3 separate regions of the Homo sapiens genome follow, and regions 1 and 2 are each linked to region 3. The links come from fine-mapping of genetic effects on plasma protein levels. A gene starts in region 3. Each other region holds a variant in brackets. All regions are shown on one strand. Distances are from middle to middle.

Region 1 (8,233 bases), 40 kb before region 3:
TAAGTTCACTTCAGATGAACAAAACAGATAAACGCTAGCTTTGTATAATGTGCATTTATTCGAAGTAAGAATTTGAAAAGACTGAATAGTGGAAGGTTATCTGTGGTGATTACGCCACTGAGAGAAAAGGAGTCCTGTAGAGACCACCCCCATTTTAAGGTTTCACAGCTACCTCACGGAGGTTAAAAACTATCCTCTCATTTTAAGGATGAAATGTGCATATGTTAAAGGAAGTTTTCTTCATGATGAATCATTGCTTATATTAGGGAGGAGCACCTTCTGGAAAACCGCTCAGATGTATTAAAACTTCTCAAGCTGAGTTTTCTGACAGCAAATGCGAAATGAATGCCAAACCTTGTGCCTCTGTTCCTTGGGGTGTTGTCTGCTGTTTGGCCTGGGATGGGAAAACGTTACTGTTTGATGCAGATTGTTGTGTGTACCGAGGTCAATACAGATTAATGATTTCAACTCGTCAAAGGAAGTTTCACTGTAGGGTATTTTCATAGGATGCACAACTTGGAATTCTTGATAAACCCATAGTGAAGGAAGTCAGAGGGAGCAGATAGATGTGCACTCTCGGGAAGATTTCAACCATGTTTTCCTTGGCCAGACCCTGTGTAGCATAGCTGCAGAATACTGGTGAGAAAAATAATCTGAGTGAGAGTATTTCTTTTCTTTTCTTTTCTTTTCTTTTTTTTTTTGAGACAGAATTTCAGGCTGGGTGCGGTGGCTCACGCCTGTAATCCCAGTACTTTGGGAGGCCGAGGCGGGTGGATCACCTGAGGTTGGGAGTTGGCGACCAGCCTGATCAACATAGATAAACCCTGTCTCTATTAAAATACAAAATTAGCTGGGTGTGGTGGCGCATGCCTGTAATCCCAGCTACTCAGGAGACTGAGGCAGGAGAGTCACTTGAACCCGCGAGGCAGAGGTTGTGGTGAGCCGAGATCGAGCCATTGCACTCCAGCCTGGGCAACAAGAGCAAAACTCTGTCTCAAAAAAAAAAAAAAAAAGAGACGGAGTTTCGCTCTTGTTGCCCAGGCTGGAGTGCAGTGATGTGATCGTGGCTCACCGCAACCTCTGCCTCCCAGGTTCAAGCCATTCTCTTGCCTCAGCCTCCCGAGTAGCTGGGATTACAGGCATGCACCACCTCGCCCGGCTAACTTTTGTATTTTCAGTAGAGACGGGGTTTCACCATGTTGACCAGGCTAGTCTGGAGCTCCTGACCTCGTGATCCACCCACCTTGGCCTCCCAAAGTGCTGAGATTACAGGCATGAGACACTGCGCCCGGCCAGAACTGTGTTTTCTGAAGGTTCCGGAAACTTTGGTGCCCTTCCTGGTCAGTAGTGTTAGACCAGTAGAAGGTACAGAAGAGAACACAGGTTGTGGAGTAAAAAACGCCTGACACACTGGATTTAGCAGCCATGTGGAATATTGTGGAAGGACTTAATGAATGTGATATTTCAGCTCTGCTTGATGTTGGGCATCCAGGGGAATGGCCAGTAGTATTTTTCCCTGCCTCCTTGGCAAAGCTGAAAAGCTACATCCAAAGAGGGTAATCATAGAACCCAAGCCTATCCTCAGTGTGCTTAAGCAGGGACTCTTTTGGGAGCTCTCACATTGAAAAGTAAGTGCTGAATTTTGCTTCATGTGAGGTTTTTTTTTTTCAGACGGAGTCTCACTCTGTTGCCTAGGCTGGAGTGCATGGTGCTATCTCTGCTCACTGCAACCTCTGTCTCCTGGGTTCAAGCAACTCTCCTGCCTCAGCCTCCTGAGTAGCTGGGATTATAGGCGCCCGCCACCACACCTGGCTAATTTTTTTTGTATTTTTAGTAGAGATGGGGTTTCATCATGTTGGCCAGGCTGGTCTCAAACTCCTG[A/C]CTTCAGGTGATCCACCCACCTCTGCCTCCCAAAGTGCTGGGATTACAGGCATGAGCCACCGCGCCTGGCCTCATGAGGTTTTCTTTTTTTTTTATTTTGAGACTGAGTTTCGCTCTTGTTGCCCAGGCTGGAATGTAATGGCTCCATCTCAGCTCACTGCAAGCTCCGCCTCCCGGGCTCAAGCAATTCTCCTGCCTCAGCCTCCCGAGTAGCTGGGATTACAAACGTGCGCTACCACACCCGGCTAATTTTTGTATTTTTAGTAGAGACGGGGTTTCACCACGTTGGCCAGGCTGGTCACGAACTTCTGACCTAAGGTGATCCGCCCTCCTCGGCCTCCCAAAGTGCTGGGATTATAGGCATGAGCCACCGCGCTCGGCCTCATGAGGTTTTCTAATGTCATATCTTTCTTGACAGTTGAGTTTTTTATAATGGAAATCAATTTGTACTTCATACTTTGTTGTACTTCAGGTTTTAGGGTCTGCTTCCTTTGGTAGTAGCTTTTTCTTTGAACAACAAAGCCTTGATTAGTTTAAAGCATTTTTTCTGATAGCTGCCATTCATTTTTCAGCTACAATGCTTAGTTTGTGGAAACTATATATTTTAAAGGACAACACCCACAACTTAGAAGAGTGAATGAGGCCAGGTGCGGTGGCTCATACCTGTAATCCCAGCACTTCGGGAGGAGGAGGAGGAGGCGGGTGGATCACTTGAGGTCAGGAGTTTGAGACCAGCCTGGCCAACATGATGAAAACCTGTCTCTACTAAAAATACAAAAATATTAGCCGGGCGTGGTGGCGTGCCCCTGTAGTCCCAGCTATTCGGGAGGCTGAGGCAGGAGGATTACTTGAATCTGGGAGGCAGAGGTTGCAGTGAGCTGAGATCGTGCCACTGCACTCCAGCCTGGGCGACAGAGTGAGACTCCGCCTCAAAAAAAAAAAAGAAAAAACAGAGTGAATGAGGTAAAAGTTGTCAGATTTTCAGTGACAGTGATTTTAAGTGCAAATTTGGCTTCTAGAACCACTATTGTCCTATCTCTAAGTCTTCTATGTAACCGACCATAACGTGAGTCCCATCTGACTTCAGAGTAAGAATGATAAAGGAGAAAAGTCAATCTTTCGTCAAAATAAACATCACCATACAAGGCAGACCCGTTGTCTGCCGCCTCCATGTTAGCTTTATTATTGGTGATACTGAAGGATGTTTTGTTAGTGAGTATGCCACGTGCTTTCTTTTTTTATCTATTATTTTATTTTATTTTATTTTTTTGAGACGGAGTCTCGCTCTGTCGCTCAGGCTGGAGTGCAGTGGTGCGATCTTGACTCACTGCAAGCTCTGCCTCTCTGGTTCATGCCATTCTCCTTCCTCAGCCTCCTGAGTAGCTGGGACTACAGGCGCCCAGCTAATTTTTTTTGTATTTTTAGTAGAGAAGGGGTTTCACTGTGTTGGCCAGGATGGTCTTGATCTCCTGACCTCGTGATCCGCCCGCCTCGGCCTCCCAAAGTGCTGGGATTACAGGAGTGAGCCACCGTGCCCAGCCTAGCATGCTACATGCTTTCTATGAGACTGCATCCCAAGAGTCAGACATGCAAGCCTCTCTATTTTTTTCCCCCTCAAGATGGATTAAAGGTTTAAAGCCTTCCTTTCTTTTTTTTTTTTTTTTTTTAAAAGACGGGGTCTCTTTAAAAAGCTGGGCGAGGTGGCTCACGCTCGTAATCCCAGCACTTTGAGAGGCCAAGGTGGGTGGATCACCTGAGGTCAGCAGTTCGAGACCAGCCTGACCAACATGGAGAAACCCCATCTCTACTGAAAATACAAAATTAGCTGGGCGTGGTGGCACATGTCTGTAATTCCAGCTCCTTGGGAGGCTGAGGCAGGAGAATCGCTTGAACCTGGGAGGCGGAGGTTGCGGTGAGCCGAGATTGCACTACAGTCTGGGCAACAAGAGCGAAACTCCATCTCAAAAAAAAAAAAAAATTAAAAAGACAGGGGTCTCTGTTGCTCAGACTGGAGTGCAGTGGCTCAGTCACAGCTCACTTGAAGCCTTGACCTCCTAGGCTCAAGCGATCTCTTCCCCTCAGCCTCCCAAGTGGCTGGGACTACAGGCACATACCACCACACCCAGCTAATTGTTAATTTTTTCATAGAGACAGGGTCTTGCTATGTTGCCCAGGCTGGTCTCAAACTCCTGGGCTCAAGTGATCCTCCCATCTTGCCCTCCCAAAGGTGTTGGGATTACAGACATGTGCCACTGCAACTGGTACTAACGTCTTTTTTTTTTTTTTTTTCTGGTTATGTAGACATGTTCTTTTGTCCTACTGGGGGTGTCTCCTAGTTGGGATGTTGGGTTTTGTTAACATGCACTCTATAACTTGACACGATGATCCTCAGCACACAAACCTCCCTGTTGCTGTGTAGATGGCGAGAGGCAGAAGGTGTCTGCATAGAGTCCTATACTTAGGATTTAGATTAAAATCATACACTGTTTTCTAATTGTACTGCATATGGTACACATAATAGCACATCATGCTGTTCTTACTGACAACATAAATCATTTTGTTTTAGTAATGGAACGTTTTGCTTGTCAAATGGAGGAACTGAGTGGGACAATTATCTGTCCTCACTTAGATGTCCAGGGTCATTTCCCAGGCTAAGAAAATGTGTAGAGCATGTATTTGGCTACGAACCAGCCTGTTCTCCTTTATTCCCTTTGATACACAATCAGCTACACAAAGCCAAGTGTTAGGTTGTGATGTAATTGCCAAAATCTAACTTCTGTCCGCTCTTTCCTCTTCCTCTGTCTCTGCATCTTAAGCATCGAGCATCTCAAGTAGTCAAGATTGCAAGACAATGCCTAGAAATTTGTTGCAGTGAGACTGTTTTCTGGCCCTTTCCTTTTTTTTTTCCCCTTTTCTGAGACAGAGTCTCACTTTATCACCCAGGCTGGAGTGCAGTGGCACAGTCTTGGCTCACTGCAAACTCCACCTCCTGGGTTCAAGCGATTCTTGTGTCTCAGCTCCCCAGGTAGCTGGGATTACAGGTGCCCTGCCACCACACCTGGCTAATTTTTGTAGTTTTAGTGGAGACTGGGTTTTATCATGTTGGGCAGGCTGGCCTTGAACTCCTGACCTCAAGTGATCCGCCTGCCTCACCCTCCCAAAGTGCTGGGATTACAGGCGTGAGCCACCACGCCCAGCCCTGGCCGTTTCCTATCCCTGCCACCCCACATGCTGCCATTTACTGAATCCTTGGACTGATGCATAAATAAAACTGGGCCAGGCACCGTGGCTCACACCTGTAATGCCAGCTCTTTGGGAGGCCAAGGTGGGTGTATCACTTGAGGTCAGAGGTTCAAGACCAGCCTGGCCAACGTGGCGAAACCCTGTCCCTACTGAAAATACAAAAAAAAAAAAAAAAAAAAAAAAAAAAAATTAGCTGGGTGTGGTATCACGTGCCTGTAATCCCAGCTACTTGGGAGAATGAGGCAGGAGAATTGCCTGAACCCCGGAGGCAGAGGTTACAGTAAGCTGAGGTCGCGCCACTGTACTCCAGCCTGGGTGACAGGTGAGACTCCTTAAAAACTGGCAAAAGCCAATTAATGTAGTTGTGATGATTACAGTCCAATTATCTCTGGGTCTAAAATAGAAACTTTACACTATTAAATGCATCAGTTTCAAGTATCACGTAGTCACGATGGTAAAAGTGAAATGAGGCTTCTCAGCCATATCTCCTTTCTTAATTTTCTTATTGCAGTGTCAGTGTTCCAAAAGTGATCATTTCTGTTGGTGACAGTTGAAACACCAAGTCGCGTTGTGTGCTTTCTACAGTAGGTAGGCACTGAGGTCTGCATTTTCTGTTTCTTTCCCACAGCGCATGGATTTAGGAGAATGTACCAAAATCCACGACTTGGCCCTCCGAGCAGATTATGAGATTGCAAGTAAAGAAAGAGACCTGTTTTTTGAATTAGATGTAAGTTTTATTTAATGTTGATTTATTCCTACTGCGAAGAACCCAATATTGAACTAACAAGAAAAATGTAACATACGTAAGTTATGAAGCAAAATAATAAGGTAGTTGCTTGTTATCCTGCCACTCAAGCTCAGAGCTAGAATACAGCCAGTACTGTTTATATGTTGTGTCCAGCGTCCTGTCAGTGTCCTAAATGATAATATGTGTTATCTCATTTTGTTGCTTTTAAAAATTTTAATTACATTTTTATGAGTCCTTGAACAGTGTTTATTTTTGCTTAGTTTTGAATGGTTTCATAGTGTAGAGTCTTTAAAATTAGATTTTTTTGGTTCAGTATCATGTTTCTGTTTGCCCAGGTTGTTGCATATAGTTTTCATTGCTGCTTGAATAATTCTCAAACGATCTTTGCTTTATTCATAGACATTTAGATTGATTCTAGTTTTGCTACTGCAGACAATATGAATATTTTTGCATAACTTCCTTGTCACGTGGATAAGGATTTATTTTGGGTATATTCCTAGGAGAGGGATTGCTGGTTTATAGGAGATACCCGTATTTATCCTCGCAAGACAATTTTGTAATGTTGTCTTCTTGTTTCTATTTGGTAAAGTCCCATAGCAGTGTCTGCACGCTCACCAACACTTTGTATTATCAGACTGTTTAATTTTTGCAGTTTAGTGGTTGTAAAATGGCATTTCTTTCTGATCTCAATTTGCATTTTTTTAGTACTCAGTAGTTGTGTTATTTTATCTACATTAGTAAATTCTTTTTTTTTTTTTGAGACGGAGTTTCACTCTTGTTGCTCAGGCTGGAGAGCAGTAGTGCGATCTTGGCTCACTGCAACCTACTCCTCCCAGGTTCAAGCAATTCTGCCTCAGCCTCCTGAGGAGCTGGGAATACAGGCATGAGCCGCCATGCCCGGCTGATTTTGTATTTTTAGTAGAGATGGTGTTTCTCCATGTTGATCAGGCTGGTCTCGAACTCTCAACGTCAGGTGATCCGCCCGCCTCAGCCTCCCAAAGTGCTGGGATTACAGGTTGAGCCACCGTGCCTAGCTTCTTTTTCTTTTTGATACAGAGTTTCACTCTGTTGCCCAGGCTGGAGTGCAGCAGCATGATTATAGCTGACTGTAAGTGAATTGCTGGGCTCAGGTGATCCTTCTTCCACAGTCTCCTAAATAGCTAGTACTACAGATGCACACGACCATGTCTGGCTAATTATTTATTTAATTTATTTTAATTTTTATTTATTTATTTATTTTGAGACAGAGTCTTGCTCTGTCACCAGGCTAGAGTGCAGTGGCACCATCTTGGCTCATTGCAACCTCCGACTCCCTGGTTCAAGTGATTCTCCTGCCTTAGCCTCCCAAGTAGCTGGGATGACAGGCATGCGCCACCATGCCCAGCTCATTTTTGTATTTTTGGTAGAGATGGGGTTTTACCATGTTGGCCAGGCTGGTCTCGATCTCCTGACCTTGTGATCCGCCTGCCTCGGCCTCCCAAAGTGCTGGGATTACAGCTGTGAGCCACCGCGCCTGTCCTATTTATTTTTGAGACAGGTTCTTGTTCTGTCACCCAGGCTGGAGGGCAGTGGCGTGATGATGGCTTGCTGTAACCTTGACCTCTTCGGCTCAGTGATAGCCCTGCCTCGGATTCCTGAGTAGCTGCGGGTATAGGTGTGTGCCACCACACCCGGCCTTTTTTTTTTTTTTTTTTTTTTTTTTTGAGACAGGGTTTTACTATGTTGCCCAGGCTGGTCTCAAACTTCTGCCCTCAAGTGATCCTGCCACCTTGGCCTCTCACTGGTATTGGGATTTCAGGTGTGAGCCACTATGCCTGGCCAGTAAATTCATTTAGAGTAGCATTTTTCAGCTTTTTTTCGTTGTTGCCCCCAGTGGAGCCTTTTAAGATTCTTTTTTCTGTTTTTTTGAGACAGAGTCTCCCTCTGTTGCCCAAGCTGGAATGCAGTGGCGCAATCTTGGCTCATTGCAACCTCCGCCTCCTGGGTTTAAGCAATTCTCCTGCCTCAGCCTCCCAAGTAGCTGAGATTAGAAGTGCCCGCCACCACACCCAGCTGATTTTTGTATTTTTAGTAGAGATGTGGTTTCGCCATGTTGGCCAGGCTCATCTTGAACTCTTGACCTCAGGTGATCCACCCACCTCACTCTCCCAAAGTGCTGGGTTTACAGGTGTGATTACACTGTGCCTGGTAAGAATACATGATTTAAACTCACTCAATTTTAATTGTTTTTTAATCCCTAATCACCCATCGCTAGTATGACCAGAGGTTAGTAGAGGGGTTTGATGCCATTCTGGTTCTTGAGTGAAGACCGGGAAGGCACTGAGCATGGGATGAGGGAGCCAGTGAAAAATATAAAACCCA
Region 2 (8,237 bases), 51 kb before region 3:
GTCTTTACTAAAAATAAAAAAAATAGCTGGGCGTGGTAGTACGTGCTTGTAGTCCCAGCTCCTCCAGAGGCTGAGGCAAGAGAATAGCTGGACCAGGGAGGCGGAATGAGCCAAGATCACGTCACTGCACTCCAGCCTGGGTGACAGAGGAAGACTCTGTCTCAAAAAAAAAAAAAAAAGAATTTCATTAACAGGTTTTGTGGTGGAAACCTTCCACTTTCACTCCGAGATCACTTGCTCTAAGGGAAGATAATTACCATGTGAGGACATGGGCCCTAAGGAAAGTTCCATGATGCAAGGAACTGAGGGCTCCTGCCACCAGCCAAGAGGGAACTGAGGCTTCCAGTCACTAGCCTTGTGAGTGAGCCATCTTGGAATCAGATCCTCCAGCCCTGGTCCAGCTTTTATTTTATTTGTTCTTTTTAAATTTTCGACCTCTAGAAAAAACAGAAAAGACTCCATCCAGCTTTTAGACACCTGCAGCCCCAGCCAACATCTTGGCTGCAACTCCATGAGACCCGAAGTCATAATCACCCAGATAAGCCACTGATCAATTCCTGACCCACAGAAACTGTTGGATAATAAATATTCGTCACTTTAATCCATTAAACTTTGTGTTGTTACAAGCAGCAGACAACCATTAGAAGTCAGCAGAATGGAAGCAAGGAGCCTGAAAAGAAAAAGAAGGGGTGGGCATGGTGGCTCACACCTGTAATCCTAACACTTTGCGAGGCCAAGGCAGGAGGACTGCTTGAAGCCAGGAGTTTGAGACCTGCCTGGGCAACACAGTGAGAACCCATCTACATATTTTTTTAAAAAAATACATAAATAAATAAACAGGCTGGGCGCAGTGGCTCACACTTATAATTCCAGCACTTCAGGAGGCCAACAAAGGAGGGTTGCTTGGGCACAGGAGTTCAGGACCAGACTGAGAAAGAGAGACCCCATCCCTACAAAATAATTTATTTATTTATTTTATTTTATTTTTTTGAGACAGTCTCGCTGTGGCCCAGGCTGGAGTGCAGTGGCGCGATCTCGGCTCACTGCAGGCTCCGCCCCCCGGGGTTTCCGCCATTCTCCTGCCTCAGCCTCCCGCGTAGCTGGGACTACAGGCGCCCGCCACCTCGCCCGGCTAATTTTTTGTATTTTTAGTAGAGACGGGGTTTCACCGTGTTAGCCACGATGGTCTCGATCTCCTGACCTCGTGATCCGCCCGCCTCGCCCTCCCAAAGTGCTGGGATTACAGGCGTGAGCCACCGCGCCCGGCCTATTTATTTTGAGACAGTCTCGCTATGTCTCCAGAGCGTAGTGGTGCAATCTCGGCTCACTGCAACCTCTGCCTCTCGGGTTCAAGCTATTCTCCTGCCCCAGCCTCCCAAGTAGCTGGGACTACAGGTGTGCGCCACCACACCCAGCTAATTTTTATATTTTTAGTAGAGACGGGATTTCACCATGTTGGACAGGATGGTCTCGATCTCTTGACCTAGTGATCCGCCTACCCCAAACTCCCAAAGTGCTGGGATTACAGGCATGAGCCACTGCGCCCACCCAAAAAAAATTTTTAAGAAAAATAAATATGGTGGCACATGCCTGTAGTCCCAGATACTCAGGAGGGTGGAGCAAAAGGAAAAAAAGAGGGCCAGTTGCGGTGGCTCACACCTGTAATCCCAGCACTTTGGGAGGCCGAGGCGAGTGGATCACCTGAGGTCAGGAGTTTGAGACTGGCCTGGCCAACATGGTGAAACCCCTACTAAAAATAAAAAATAAAAAAAATTAGCTGGGTGTGGTGGCGGGCACCTGTAATCACAGCTACTTGGGAGGCTGAGTGGGGAGAATCGCTTGAACCCGAGTAACTGGGATTACCGGCACCTGCCACCATACGCAGCTAATTTTTTTATTTTTAGTAGAGACGGGATTTCACCATGTTGGCCATGCTGGTCTCGAACTCCTGACCTCAGGTGATCCGCCTGCCTCGGCCTCCCAAAGTGCTGGGATGACAGGCGTGAGCCACCGCGCCGGCCCAGCAAGCTCCATTTTTTATTTATCTAATTTACTATCTGTACCCTCCAGTAGAATAGAAGCTCCTTGAGGACAGGAAGTTCTTTCGTGGAGTACTATATCCTTAGCTCCTACAACCATCCCTGGTTCCCAGCAGACACTCGGAGAGTATTTGTTGAGTTATTCTGCTCTAATTGGATGCAGACTGAAATTGCAATAAGGGAAGTAGTGTAATCTGATGCTGGCGCCGTAAAGACACCGGCAGCCAGTACATGGAAGGGAGCGCGTCACAGCCTCCTCAGCTGGAATCACAAGGTTTAGAACCAGAGAGTAAGTGAAATTGCCTACCCTGATATCCTATCAGTCTGTCCAAGGGCAAACTCTCTCCTTGACAACTCTCGGCCAACGAACGTAGGGGAGAGCCAGGAACGCTAATCCCAGTGTTTTCCTCCCATCTAGCCTCTGTTTTGTGTTCTATGCCTGAGTCCCTCCCACAGACGAGCAACCTCGGCTGCGCTCGGGGAGCTTTCCCGGGGTGCCGGACGGACAAGCTTGCAGACAGCGTCCCGAGAGAGGACACGCCTCTCCGACCCCCGTGAGGCTTCTCATCCACATTCTTCCACCATAAAAAAACACTCTCAGGCAACCCAGGCGGCACCAAGAGCGAAAGCGACCACGGCCGGCTCACCTACGCTGCGCCACGGCGGGGAGCTCCCTACCGGGAGGTAAAACCCCGCTTTGAGGAACATGTGGGCTTGTTCTGAATGCCACTGAAACCCAGGCTGCGGCAATGGGGGAAACCCGAAAGAATCAGCCTCCAGAGGCGCTGCTGCCGACCCGCTGAGGGACTTGGGGCCCCGCCGCAGCCTCCCGGCCCGCACCCGACTCGGGAAGGCGGAGGAGCTAGGGGGCAGCACGGCGGGGTCCTCCAGGGGCCGAGGGACTGGGGAACCTGGGGGCCGGGGTCCCAGAGCGAAGGGGCGGCCTGCGGCGCCCCTGCGGCGTGCACGCGCGAGTACGAGGCCGCGCTCACTCACCTGCCGCCGCGGCCTCTCACCCGACCGCGCCGCTGGCCCCGCCCCCTGGCGTCACTTCCGACCAGCCGGGCGGGCGGGGGCGGAAATGCGCAGGCTCCGACCCCGCCCCACCGCCATGCTTCGGTTGCTCGGCAACGGGGATCTTGGGCGCTGCCTCCGCCGGGAACCTGGCGGTGTCCTGTTTGTCGCTGTCGCAATGGATGCTGAACGTCCTCGCCCCTCTTCGTTCCCGTCCCCCCTCCGTCCTCGCTCCTCTCCGTCCTCTTTCCCCTCCTTCTCTGCGTCCTCGCTCCCCTCCTCCTCCTCTCCCGACCTTGTCCTCTTCCCGCCTTCTTTCTTGACGTCGACCCCCGATCTGCGTCCTCGCCCCCGCTTCCGGGTGCTCTCCCCAGTGTTTCTCCTCTTTGACCACGAGGAGAATTGCTGGCACTGAGGATGCGAATTTTCGGCCTTGAAATACGGTGCCAGGGCCGGGGGCGGTGGCTCACGCCTGTAATTCCAGCACTTTGGGAGGCCGAGGCGGGCGGATTACAAGGTCAGGAGATCGAGACCATCCTGGCTAACACTGTGAAACCCCGTCTCTACTAAAAATACAAAAAATTAGCCAGGCGTGGTGGCGGGCGCCTGTAGTCCCAGCTACTCAGGAGGCTGAGGCAGGAGAATGGCGTGAACCCAGGAGGCGGAGGTTGCAGTGAGCTTAGACTGCGCCACTGCACTCCAGCCTGGGCGACAGAGCCAGACCGTGTCTCAAAAAAAAAAAAAAAAAAAAAAAAAAAAAAGGCTAGGGGCTCATGCCTGTAATCCCAGCACTTTGGGAGGCCGAGGCAGGTGGATCACCTGAGGTCGGGAGTTCAAGACCAGCCTGACCAACATGTATAAACCCAGTCTCTACTAAAAATCCAAAATTAGCTGGACTTGGTGGCGCGTGCTTGTAATCATAGCTACTCGGGAGGCTGAGGCAGGAGAGTTGCTTCAACCTGGGAGGCAAGAGTTTGCGGTGAACTGAGATCTTGCCATTGCACTCCAGCCTGGGCAACTAGAGTGAAACTCCGTCTCAAAAAAAAAAAAAAAAGGATGGGGTCTCCCTCTGTCCCTCAGGCTCAAGTGCAGTGGCGGGATCACAGCTTACTGCAACCTCTGCTTCCCAGGCACAAGTGATCTTCTCACCTCAGCCTCCGGAGTAGCTAGGACTACAGCTGTAAGCCACCATGCCCAGCTAATTTTTTTCCTTTCTTGTAGACATGGGGTTTTGCCATATTAACCAGGCTGGTCTTGAACTCCTGGACTCAAGTGATCTCCTGCTTTGGCCTCCCAAAGTGCTGGGATTTCAAGCATGGGCCACTGTGCCTGGCAGTTGTCTGATTTCTAGTAACTGTGGCAGTTTGGTAGGTGCGTAATTCAGATGATTTAATTGCTTTGTTCAAATGGCCAATTGGAAGCAAAGTCATGCCTTAAAACATTATTTAAAACTTGTCAGCCGGGCACAGTGGCTCATGCCTATAATCCCAGCACTTTGGGAGGCCGAGGTGGGTGGATCTCAAGGTCAGGAAATCTAGACCATCCTGGCTAACACTGTGAAACCCCGTCTCTATTAAAAATACAAGAAAATTAGCCAGGCGTGGTGACGGGCGCCTATAGTCCCAGCTACTTGGGAGGCTGAGGCAGGAGAATGGTGTGAACCTCGGAGGCGGAGCTTGCAGTGAGCTGAGATCGCGCCACTGCACTCCAGCCTGGGCGACAGAGTGAGACTCTGTCTCAAAATAAATGAAAACAAAACTTGTCTAACCGTGTCTGGACTTTTGATGCTTCTAGCCCATGAACAGTCTTTGTTGTATTCTTAGAGTAAGTCTTTTTTCCCCCTTCCAGGGCAGCAATCATATTAAATTATCATTTGTGAAATGATTTTTTAAAATTTAAATTTTATTTTTTAATTAATTAATTTTTTTGAGGTGGAGTGTCAAAATAGACCACTCCCGGCCTGTTTTTTTTTTGAGATGGAGTCTCCCTTTATCGCCCAGGCTGGAGTGCCGCGGCACAATCTTGGCTCACTGCAACCTCCGCTTCCTGGGTTCAAGTGATTCTCCTGCCTCAGCCTCCTGAGTAGCTGGAACTACAGGCGTGTGCCACCACACCAGGCTAGTTTTTTTGTATTTTTAGTAGAGACAGGATTTCACCATGTTGGCCAGGCTGGTCTTGAACTCCTGACCTTGTGATCCACCCACCTCGGCCTCCCAAAGTGTTGGGATTACAGGCGTGAGCCACTGTGATCGGCCTTTTTTTTGGCCGGGGGGAGAGGGAGTTTTGCTTTTGTTGCCCAGGCTGGAGTGCAATGATGCATTCTCGGCTCACCGCAACCTCTGCCTCCCAGGTTCAAGCAATTCTCCTCCCTCAGCCTCTCGAGTAGCTGGGATTACAGGCATGCGTCATCACGCCTGGCTAATTTTGTATTTTTAGTAGAGATGGGGTTTCTCCATGTTGGTCAGTCTGGCCTCAAACTCCTGACCTCAGGTGATCGCCTGCCTCGGCCTCCCAAAGTGCTGGGATTACAGGCATGAGCCACTGCCCCCAGCCTGGCATGTTTTTTAAGTTTTAATTTCATTTTTGAGACAGGGTCTCATTCTTTTTTTTTTTTTTTGGCCTCCCAAAGTGCTGGGATCACAGGTGTGAGCCACCGTGCCTGGCCAAGACAGGGTCTCGTTCTTTTGCCCAGGCTGCCATGCAGTGGTGTGATCACAGCTTACTGCAACCTCAACCACCCAGGCTCAATCCATCCTCCAACCTCAGCTTCGAGTGGCTGGGACTAGAGGCACATGCCACCACACCCGGCCTATATTTATTTATTTATTTTTATGTTTGTTAATTCTTGTATTCAACCAACAGTGAGTGTTGTGTGACCCTGTTTTAGGTGCTGGGGATACAGAATGAAGCACAATCATTAGCTGTAGACAACGTAGCCTAATGGAGCTGGATCCACCACTGGCAACCTTAAAGTTACCTCCCTTGGTCCTTAAGATGAAATGCAACTTCAAACTCTGCCATGCTTAGCATCTTGTTTCAAAACAAATAATGGTCCACCTAGTTTGCTGCTGGTAGCCCTGTGGCTCTATTAATATTAACCATCTATTGATGAAGTTAACTTTCATAAAGGATTCTACGAAAGTTCAGAGGCATGAAGTATGTAAGGACAAACAAGTACTGGTCCGCAACAAAAATAGCATCGGTATTCTGCTTTCAGAAAAGCCAAGAAAACCAAGAAAAAATTCATTCTGAGTATATACAGAACTGCTGGACAGAGGTCATCCTATACGTGTGGTACACGTACAAATATGACATAAGAAGAAGTATGAATTATTGCAGTCATTATTAAACAACGAAGTATGCCAAATTAGTCATCAGGTTTCAAAGAATCATAGCCTTCTTTCCATAGGTCCCGCCACGTTTTAAGGAAACGTGCCTTTTCTGTACATTTGAAGGCAAGTTCTTCCACTTGAGCTGATACTGCAGATGTGGCTTCAAGAAGTTTGGTTAATGAAAAGGCTGCGTCTCCGATCTGCAGC[C/T]CCACTTCCTCCAGCGGGTCCACCGTTCGGCCGCTGCTCCTGCTCGGAACTGGCCAGCCCAAACTCACTGGGCTGCCAGGGTAAGATGCTGCAGAGGCGTCTGAAGAGGAGGGAGAAGGAGGCGGCGGGGGCGGCGAAGAAACCTGCAACTTCTCAGGGTCGGCCATGGGGAAGGGCTGGCACCGCGGAATCCGACCCGAGCAGCCCAACGGACACCCTATTTATTTATTTTAAATAGAGAGCAGGGGCCTGGCGTTCTGGCTCACAGCTGTAATCCGAGGACTTTGGGAGGCTGAGGTGGGCGGATCACCTGAGGTTAGGAGTTTAAGACCAGCCTGGCCAACATGGCGGAACCCCGTCTCTGCAAAAGTACAAAAAAAAAGTTAGTCGGGAATGATGGCGGGTGCCTGTAATCCCAGCTACTGGGGAGACTGAGACAAGAGAATCGCTTGAACCCAGGAGTCAGAGGATGCAGGAAGCCGAGATCGCGCCACTGCACTCCAGGCTGGGCGACAGAGGGAGACTCCGTCTCAAAAATAAATAAAATACGGCAGGGCGCGGTGGCTCACGCCTGTAATCTCAGCACTTTGGGAGGCCGAGGCAGGCAGATCACAAGGTCAGAAGTTCAAGACCAGCCTGGCCAATACGGTACAACACCGTGTCTACCGAAAATACAAAAATCAGCTGGGCATGGTGGCTGGCTACTTGAGGTCAAGACTTTGAGACCAGCCTGGCCAGCATGGTGAAACCCCGTCTCTACTTAACATTCAAAAATTAGCCGGAGGGGGTGGCGGGCGCCTGAAATTCCAGCTACTGGGGAGACTGAGGCAGGAGAATCGCTTCAACCCGGGAGGCGGAGCTTACAGTGAGCCGAGATCGCGCCACAGCATTCCAGCCTGGGTGACAGAGCAAGACTCCGTCTCAAAAAAAAAATAAACAAATAAAAAATAAAGACCGGGCGTGGTGGCTCATGCCTGTAATCCCAGCACTTTGGGAGGTTGAGGCAGGAGAATCGCTTGAACCCAGGAGGCGGAGGTTGCGGAGAGCCAAGATCGCGCCATTGCACTCTAGCCTGGGCGAAACTCCGTCTCAAAAATAAATAAATAAATAATAGAGGTTTAATATAATAGAAGTATATGCCAGACTATGCACACATAAGTGCATGCTATAATTCTATTATCACATAAAATAACTGCTTACATATGCCTTTTCTTTAGTCCCTGGGACAGTAGACCATGAGCTCACAAAAGGACGACCACGAGGTTGTAATCATAGAACCTAATATTAATGCCATGACTGATGGCCAAACGTGGTGGTTCACACCAGTAATCCCAATACTTTGCCGGGCTGAGGCGGGAGGATAAGGAGCCGGGGAGGTCGAGGCTGCAGTGAGCGGTAATCGCGCCACTGCATTCCAGCCTGGGCGACGGAGCAAGACCCTCGCTCTAAATAAATAAATAAATAAATAAATAAAATTCCATGCTTTATTTAACTTTCACAAAAATCATATGAGGGGCACCTTTAGAACCCTCATTTCACAGATTTAAAAAAACGAGCGTCGGGGAGCTAAATAATATGCTCACGGTTTCATGGCTAGCTTAGAAAAAGCACGGATTCATCTTGTTTTTGATTGACTGTATTTCAT
Region 3 (8,000 bases):
TGTTCCCCCCGTGTCGCTGTTCCCCCCGTGTCGCTGTTCCCCCCGTGTCGCTGTTCCCCCCGTGTCGCTGTTCCCCCCGTGTCGCTGTTCCCCCCGTGTCGCTGTTCCCCCCGTGTCGCTGTTCCCCCCGTGTCGCTGTTCCCCCCGTGTCGCTGTTCCCCCCGTGTCGCTGTTCCCCCCGTGTCGCTGTTCCCCCCGTGTCGCTGTTCCCCCCGTGTCGCTGTTCCCCCCGTGTCGCTGTTCCCCCCGTGTCGCTGTTCCCCCCGTGTCGCTGTTCCCCCCGTGTCGCTGTTCCCCCCGTGTCGCTGTTCCCCCCGTGTCGCTGTTCCCCCCGTGTCGCTGTTCCCCCCGTGTCGCTGTTCCCCCCGTGTCGCTGTTCCCCCCGTGTCGCTGTTCCCCCCGTGTCGCTGTTCCCCCCGTGTCGCTGTTCCCCCCGTGTCGCTGTTCCCCCCGTGTCGCTGTTCCCCCCGTGTCGCTGTTCCCCCCGTGTCGCTGTTCCCCCCGTGTCGCTGTTCCCCCCGTGTCGCTGTTCCCCCCGTGTCGCTGTTCCCCCCGTGTCGCTGTTCCCCCCGTGTCGCTGTTCCCCCCGTGTCGCTGTTCCCCCCGTGTCGCTGTTCCCCCCGTGTCGCTGTTCCCCCCGTGTCGCTGTTCCCCCCGTGTCGCTGTTCCCCCCGTGTCGCTGTTCCCCCCGTGTCGCTGTTCCCCCCGTGTCGCTGTTCCCCCCGTGTCGCTGTTCCCCCCGTGTCGCTGTTCCCCCCGTGTCGCTGTTCCCCCCGTGTCGCTGTTCCCCCCGTGTCGCTGTTCCCTCCGTGTCCGTATTCCTCCCGTGTCCGTATTCCTTACCTGCACCTTTTCCTGCAGGTGGGACTCAGGGTACTTGTTCAGCACATGTGCTTTCCTCTTCGTCTTCTAGGAGGGAGTGGTTGGGTCTGGGCTCCCTGTTCCCAAGCCCACGTTGTGTTCATGGCTGTGGCTGCCTGGGTGATGAGTGTGAGTTTGCACCTGGGTTTCCCTGGGCCTTAAGCAGACAGCGTCACCCTCAGAGCCATCACCACTGTGAATCATTTGGATCTTTTTCCATCTGGGCATAAAATTGTATGTGTAGACAAATAGTTGTTTTTTGCTTTTTTGGGTGGGGGGGGTCAGGGTGTGGGGTTTACAGAAAAGGTGCTGTGCCCCTGGCCATCCTGTCCCCCGTGTCTGCTGATTACAGCTGAAGGACAGGTCCTCCTGGGATGCAGCATCAGTGTCCTCGGCCGCCCCTGGTAGCCTCCGGGGCACCATCCGTGCAGGGAGAGGCGCTCCTGCCTCTCTACCGTGCAGGGACAGTCGGGTGGGCTTTTGGTACACCTGCCAGGTGGTGCTGACCAAACTGAGCTTCATGCCCCCGGTGCAGTTTCGCTGATAGCACCCACAACAGCTCTTCCTTTCTCCCTCCTCCCTCCCTCCTCCCAAATAACCCACACCAGGTTCTGCTGTCAGAGTCTGCGATAGGAGTCCCATGTTTTCACTTTTTTCACCCAGTACAGCGAGTCCTTCCTTTCCACTGCAGTACCAGTAAATCTCGCCAAAGATGGCTACTCGGAGATATATGGGTCTGGAAGTGTATCCCTCCCATGTGAAGGGGTCTGTAGTGTCAGGTGGAACCGGCCCTTGTCTCCACCCACAGGGACCACCTTGGCCTGCAGCCCAGACTGCAGGAGAACAGAAGAGAAGGGGGCCTCTCCAGAACATTTGGCGATTAAAAAAAAACTTTTTTTTTTTTTTTTTGAGACGGAGTCTCGCTCTGTCTCCTAGGCTAGAGCGCGGTGATGCAGTCTCGGCTCACTGCACCCTCTGCCTCAGCCTCCCGACTAGCTGGGAATACAGGGGCCCGCCACCATGCCCGGCTAATTGTTGTATTTTTAGTAGAGACAACGTTTCACCATCTTGGCCAGGCTGGTCTTGGACTCCTGACCTCGTGATCCACCCGCCTTGACCTCCCAAAGTGCTGGGATCACAGGCGTAAGCCACGGCACCTGGCCAAAATTATTTATTTATTTTTTTTGAGACGATGCTTGCTTTGTCACCCATGCTGGAGTGCAGTGTTGTAGTCATGGCTTACTGCAGCCTTGAACTCCTGGACTTAAGTGATCCTCCTGCCCCAGCCTCCAAGTAACTGGGACATAGGTGTGCACTACCACACTTGGCTAATTTTTTATGTTTTTGTGGAGACAGGTCTCACTATGTTGCTCAGGATATTCTTGGGAACTCCTGGGCTCAAGCAGTCTTCCCACCTCAGCCTCTCAAAGCACTAGGATTACAGGTGTGTCACCACAGCTGGCAGTGATTTTTTTAAAGGTAAATGGCTCTGTTTGGTGGGTGCTGTCGGCGCCAAACTAGCTGGATGGGCTGTGCCTTGTACCACCTTTGCCTCCTGCACAGGGTTACCTTGGGCTTGGGGAGCGCATGGGCCTTGACCGAAGCCCTGAGTGGGTTAAGGGTAGTCCTGGGGGGAGGAGAGGAGGATGCGGAGGCCGTTTCCTACCCCAGTGTGCAGCCGTCATGGGACAGGCAGGTGCTGGAGCAGGCCGAGGACCCCTATCTGGGGTGGCATCCTTTGGGGGAGGGGTGGCAGCCTGGAGCCAGAACCACGTTGGCCAGGATGGAACTTTTTTTTTTTTTTTTTTGAGACGGAGTCTCGCTTTTGTCACCCAGGCTAGAATGCAGTGGCGCAAACTCGGCTCACTGCAAGCTCCGCCTCCCTGGTTCACGCCATTCTCCTGCCTCAGCCTCCCGAATAGCTGGGACTACAGGCGCCCGCTATCACGCCCGGCCAATTTTTTGTGTGTTTTTTTTAGTAGAGACGGGGTTGCACTGTGTTAGCCAGGATGGTCTCAATCTCGTGACCTTATGATTTGCCCGCCTCGGCCTCCCAAAGTGCTGGGATTATAGGCGTGAGCCACCGCGCCCAGCCAGGATGGAACATTTTTTATTATAGTAAAGTGCACACAAAACGTGCCGTTATAACAGTTTTTCAGTGTACAGTTCAGTGGCACGACGTGTATCTACATTGTTGTGCAGCCTTCACCACCACCTGTGTAGGAGTGGCTTTGAAAAGGCAGAGTATGGCCAGGCGCGGTGGCTTACATCTGCAATCCCAGCACTTTGGGAGGCCAAGGCAGGTGGATCACAAGGTTAAGAAATTGAGACCATCCTGGCCAACATGGTGAAACCCCGTCTCTACTAAAAATATAAAAATGAGCCAGGCGTGGCAGGCACCTGTAATCCCAGCTACTCAGGAGGCTGAGGCAGGAGATTCGCTTGAACCCGGGAGGTGGAGATTGCAGCGAGTTGAGATTGCACCACTGCACTCCAGCCTGGGTGACAGAGCAAGACTCCATCTCAAAAAAAAAAAAAAAAAAAAAAGGCAGAGTGCAAATTCCCCTGGACTTGAGTGGGCATGAGTCTCCCCAACAGTGTGGAGGGCCCACAGCTGCTCCCCCTGCTCCCTTGGATCTGCACCTCTGGGTAGGTTCTGTACCAAGTGGGCTGAGCCCTTGAGCCAGGGCCAGCTCCCTCCAACCTCCACATCTCCAGGGAGGATGCGGTCTGGCTCTTCCACCTTCAGTGATGCTCCAGATGTAATCCCAGGAGGGTGTCCACACCTAGTTACAGGAGTCTGAGAGCCTGGTGCTTCCTCAGGGCCCCTGAGCCTCCTGGGCTCCAAGTGCTTGCTCCTGTGCGCGAAGTTGCAGCAGCCGCAGGTCCTGTGCTCTGGGAGCACACAGGATGATTGAGGTGAGACTGACTCGAGCTACCCCAAGGATAGAAACTAGAACGTGGATCCAAGAGGGGGCTCACGGGTGGGCTAGGGGCCAGATTTTTTCTTTTCTTTTTTTTTTTTTTTGTTTGAGACAGTCTCGCTCTGTCGCAAAGCTGGAGTGCAGTGGTGCAATCTCAGCTCACTCCAACCTCCGACTCTGGTTCAAGTGATTCTCCTGTCTCAGCCTCCCGAGTAGCTGGGAGTACAGGCATGCACCACCACACCCAGTTAGTTTTTATATTTTTAGTAGAAACGGGGTTTCACCATGTTGGCCAGGCTGGTCTTAAACTCCTGACCTCAGGTGATCTACCGGCCTCTGCTTCCCAAAGTGCTGGGATTACAGGCGTGAGCCACCATGCCCCGCCCGGAGATCTAATGTAGTAGAGATAATAACCTTTATCTGCCACATGTAGCAAATATTTTCTCTGGCTCTTCCCCCCGCCCCCTCCTCTTTTTTTTTTTTTTGAGACGGAGTCTCGCTCTGTCGCTCAGGCTGGAGTGCAATGGTGTGATCTCGGCTCACCGCAACCTCCGCCTCCCGGGTTCAAGCCATCCTCCTGCCTCAGCCTCCTGAAGTTGGGATTACAGGCGCCCGCACCACACCCAGCTAATTTTTATTTTTATTTTTATTTTTTCTGAGACGGAGTCTCACTCTGTCGCCCAGGCTGGAGTGCAGTGGCGCAATCTTGGCTCACTGCAGGCTCCGCCTCCGGGGTTCACGCCATTCTCCTGCCGCAGCCTCCCGAGTAGCTGGGAATGCAGGCGCCCGCCACCACCCCCAGCTATTTTTTTGTATTTTTAGTAGAGACGGGGTTTCACAGTGTTAGCCAGGATGGTCTCGATCTCCTGACCTCGTGATCCGCCCGCCTCGGCCTCCCGGAGTGCTGGGATTACAGGCGTGAGCCACCGCGCCCGGCCTGTCCACTTTTCCTCAGTGTCACCTTGAGAATACCATTTCTGAGGAAAAGCATCTCTACATGTGCCTAGAAGACTGGAACAGCTACGCATCAAATGTTAGGGGTGTGGATGAGGCCTGCCTCTACCCCGTGTGTGTGTGTGTGTGTGTGTGGCATGTCTGTGTTACACATGTGCTCTTGGATATGACAGCCATGTCCTGTTCTTGTTTACACATGACACAGTTTGCCGCGTGTCAAGCGGCAGCTGAAGGATGTGCTGCACCCATTCCTGGACCTGGGATACACAGGAAGGTGCAGCAAGCCTTGTTTTCGGAAGTTCTACAATGACCATGATTGGTTTTATGTGGACAAATATAAAAAAGCTTCACTCTCCGTAGTGATGTCGGGTGACGGCAGGGGTCTGGGTCGGTTCCTGGTCCACCTCGCCAGCTACGTGGCTAGGTGCTGGGGCTGGTCCCACCTCCTTCACCACAACCCCCCGGCACCCCAGGTCCCCGATTCCAGGCCACAGCCGCGGCGGCTGGGTGCTGCGCAGGTACCGGCTCGCGCCGGGAGGGGGCGCTGTTCCCTAACCTGCTCCGAGTCAGCCCCGGGCCCTTAACGCCGCCCGCGTGCGTTCACGCTGCAGGTGCGGAGTTCTCGCGGTGGGTCCGGGCCGCGTGCTCGGCGCAGAGTGGGGAGGGCGAAGCCAGCCGCCCTCGGGATGGGCAGAGTCGGCCGTCCTCGCAGCCCGCCGCCCGGGGCGTCCCGCGGCCCTCACCTACCACCCCATTCGGGAGGGTCAGGCTGCACGCAGTTCGGTGCCCCCATGGCCGAGGCCCCAAACCTGCTGGAGGTGGAAAGAGGCGCGCCTGGATCTGGGCACTGGGGGTGTGCCCCAGGCCCTCGCCTTTCCTTGGGGAGGGGCGGCGCCTTCCTCTCGCGTCCTGACCTCGAGAGAGCACGGCAAGAAGGCTGCTCCTGGGAGAGGCTTTACTCAAACACGGGGAAGGTCGCCTGGGGATCCCGCGGCCACCCACCCACAGTTCAGCGGTACTCGGAAACCAGCGCCGAGATAACGTGGCTCAGGAACTTGTCCAGCGACGCCTGCAGCGCGGGGCTGAAGTCTCCGGGGTAGTGCCGGGCGAGGGTTACCAGCAGGCAGTGGCCCAGGAGCTGCGGCGAGCGCTCAAGGCTCACTCGCCTGCACCCGCCCCGCACGCCCCCCGCACCCACCCCGCCGGGGCCCTCCCGGGGACAGGGGCCCAGCACGGCAGCCGCTCACCTGGAAGCTGGCCGGGTCCACTCGCAGCTGGCACGCGTGCAGGTGGCTCAGCGCGGACAGCGCGTGGGGTAGGTCGTCCAGGCGCTCCACGGCGAGGCTCAGCGCGTCCGCCACCTTCTGGCCGTGGGCTCTGACTTGTGAGGAGCCGGGGCTCAGGTCCAGGTGGGAGAAGTAGGTCTTCGTGGCGGGGAAAGCCAGGAAGGTCCTGCGAGAGGAACGTGGGTGAGGCGCGTCCGGGGGGCTTGGGGAGGGAGGGCCCCTGGGGGCGGGGGCGCCCAGCCTGCCGCACCTTTCCAGGGCCTCTGTCGTGTAGACGCCGACGTTGCTGCCCAGCTTCTTCCACAGGGCGCGCACCAGCGCCCGGTCCTCCGCGGACAGCGCCATCCCCGCGCTGGAACCCGCCGCGCCCTGCGACCCCGCTGCGCCTGCGCGGACCGGCCAGGGGTCCCGCGGCCTCCAGGGGGCGCCGCGCCGCAGCTTCGCCGCCCGGGGGTCCAGGGCCTCGTCGGAGATCCCGGGACCGCGCGCGCTCAATCTCCGACAGCTCCGACCGGGGCCCTCTGAATCGCCCTGGATCCAAGGCCCCCCGTCTTAGGTGTTCACTATATGGTATTTAGTCTCTACTAAAAACACAAAAATTGGCCGGGTGCGGTGAGTGCAGTGGCGCCATTCCGGCTCACTGCAACCTCCGCCTCCCGGGTTCAAACGATTCTCCTGCCTCAGCCTCCCGAGTAACTGGGATCACAGGTGCATGCCACCATGCCAATTTTGTATTTTTAGTAGAGACAGGGTTTCACCGTGTTAGGCTGATCTCAAACTCCCGACCTCAGGTGATCCTCCCGCCTCAGCCTCCCAAAGTTCTGGGATTACAGGCGTGAACCACCGCGCCCGGCCATGTACATTATTATAGCACTGAATTTCGGCATGGATTTGGCATTGGAAGTCAGTTTATTCTGCCTCTTGATTCTATTGTGACACTTGCCCGAGTCTGTTTTCTCATTTATTATATAAAATGAGGGTGACAGTTTCTTCTCAGATTGTGAGAATTAAACGGATAACAACTGTGAGGTGCCTGACTCGTAGCAGGTGTTTCTTCAGGGCAGTGAACATTTATTGAGTACCTGGGATGTAACCCAAGAATAATAGTAAATGCATATGCAGCACTCACTCTGCTGTACCCCTTATATCTTTTTTGTTTTAAAAAAGGTGATAAAATAGACATAAATTACCATTGTAGCCATTTTTCAGGTATAAAATTTGGTGATATTAAGAACACTTAGTGTTATGCAGCCATCACCACTATCTAGGTCAGAACTTTTTCATCATCCCAAACGCCACCTCGGTACTCATTAACAGTAACTCTGGCCCCGGCAGCCACTAATCCGCTTTTGGTCCCTATGGATTTGGCTGTAGCGGATATTGCATATAGATGGGGTCATGCAGTTTGTGACCTTTGGTGTCCGGCTTCTTTTACTTGTCAAATATTTTCAGGGTGCAGCTACATCCTATCAGTGCTTCATTTCTTTTTGTGGCCAAATAATATTCCATTGTGTGTATAGACCACCACATTTTGTTTACCCATTCATCTACTGATGTATAATTTTTATAATTTTTTTTGAGATGGAGTTTTGCTCTTGTTGCCCAGGCTAGAGTGCAATGGTGTGATCTCGGGTCACTGCAACCTCTGCCTCCTGGGTTCAAGTGATTCTCCTACCTCAACCTCCCGAGTAGCTGGGATTACAGGCGTGCGCCACCACACCCGGCTAATTTTTTGTATTTTTAGTAGAGATGGGGTTTCCCCATATTGGCCAGGCTGGTCTCGAATTCCTGACCTTGTGATCTGCCCACCTTGGCTTCCCAAAGTGCTGGGATTACAGGCGTGAGCCACTGTGCCCAACCACCGTGCTAATTTTTAAATTAAATTAAATTAGATTAAATTTTTTTTTGAGACAGAGTTTCGCTCTTGTTGCCCAAGCTGGAGTGCGATGGCGCGATCTTGACTCACTACAACCTC

Direction of the effects. Positions count from the first base shown, and alleles are read on the strand shown. Strength reflects both the effect of a copy and how common the allele is.
For the plasma level of the protein whose gene starts at base 6,398 in region 3, A is the low allele of the variant in region 1 and C is the other (weak association).
For the plasma level of the protein whose gene starts at base 6,398 in region 3, allele C in region 2 goes with a lower level than allele T (strong association).

The links. PIP is the posterior inclusion probability: the model's chance that the variant is causal. The UK Biobank Pharma Proteomics Project read protein levels with antibody pairs (Olink). The fine-mapping took linkage between variants from a reference panel, not from the people measured, so its PIPs are less certain.
Region 1: its variant is fine-mapped to the plasma level of the HBQ1 protein (UK Biobank, PIP above 0.99).
Region 2: its variant is fine-mapped to the plasma level of the HBQ1 protein (UK Biobank, PIP above 0.99).

The regions. Positions count from the first base shown.
Region 1 is chr16:218,267-226,499 of GRCh38, reverse strand. LUC7L (LUC7 like) reads left to right here. Exons shown (of 10, transcript NM_201412.3): 3 at 5,753-5,851. Among named protein-coding and RNA genes, the nearest start is that of LUC7L, 7.1 kb to the left of the region's middle. The variant A/C (reference allele first, on the strand shown) is at 1,882.
Region 2 is chr16:229,656-237,892 of GRCh38, reverse strand. FAM234A (family with sequence similarity 234 member A) reads right to left here and starts at 3,072. Exons shown (of 13, transcript NM_032039.4): 1 at 3,036-3,072. It also overlaps the pseudogene C4orf46P1. RefSeq lists silencers at 2,790-3,249, 3,330-3,379 and enhancers at 3,112-3,655, 8,072-8,237. The variant C/T (reference allele first, on the strand shown) is at 6,593.
Region 3 is chr16:178,857-186,856 of GRCh38, reverse strand. HBQ1 (hemoglobin subunit theta 1) reads right to left here and starts at 6,398. Exons shown (of 3, transcript NM_005331.5): 1 at 6,276-6,398; 2 at 5,987-6,191; 3 at 5,678-5,877. The coding sequence starts at 6,370. The coding sequence ends at 5,749. RefSeq lists a silencer at 5,278-5,627 and an enhancer at 5,638-5,897.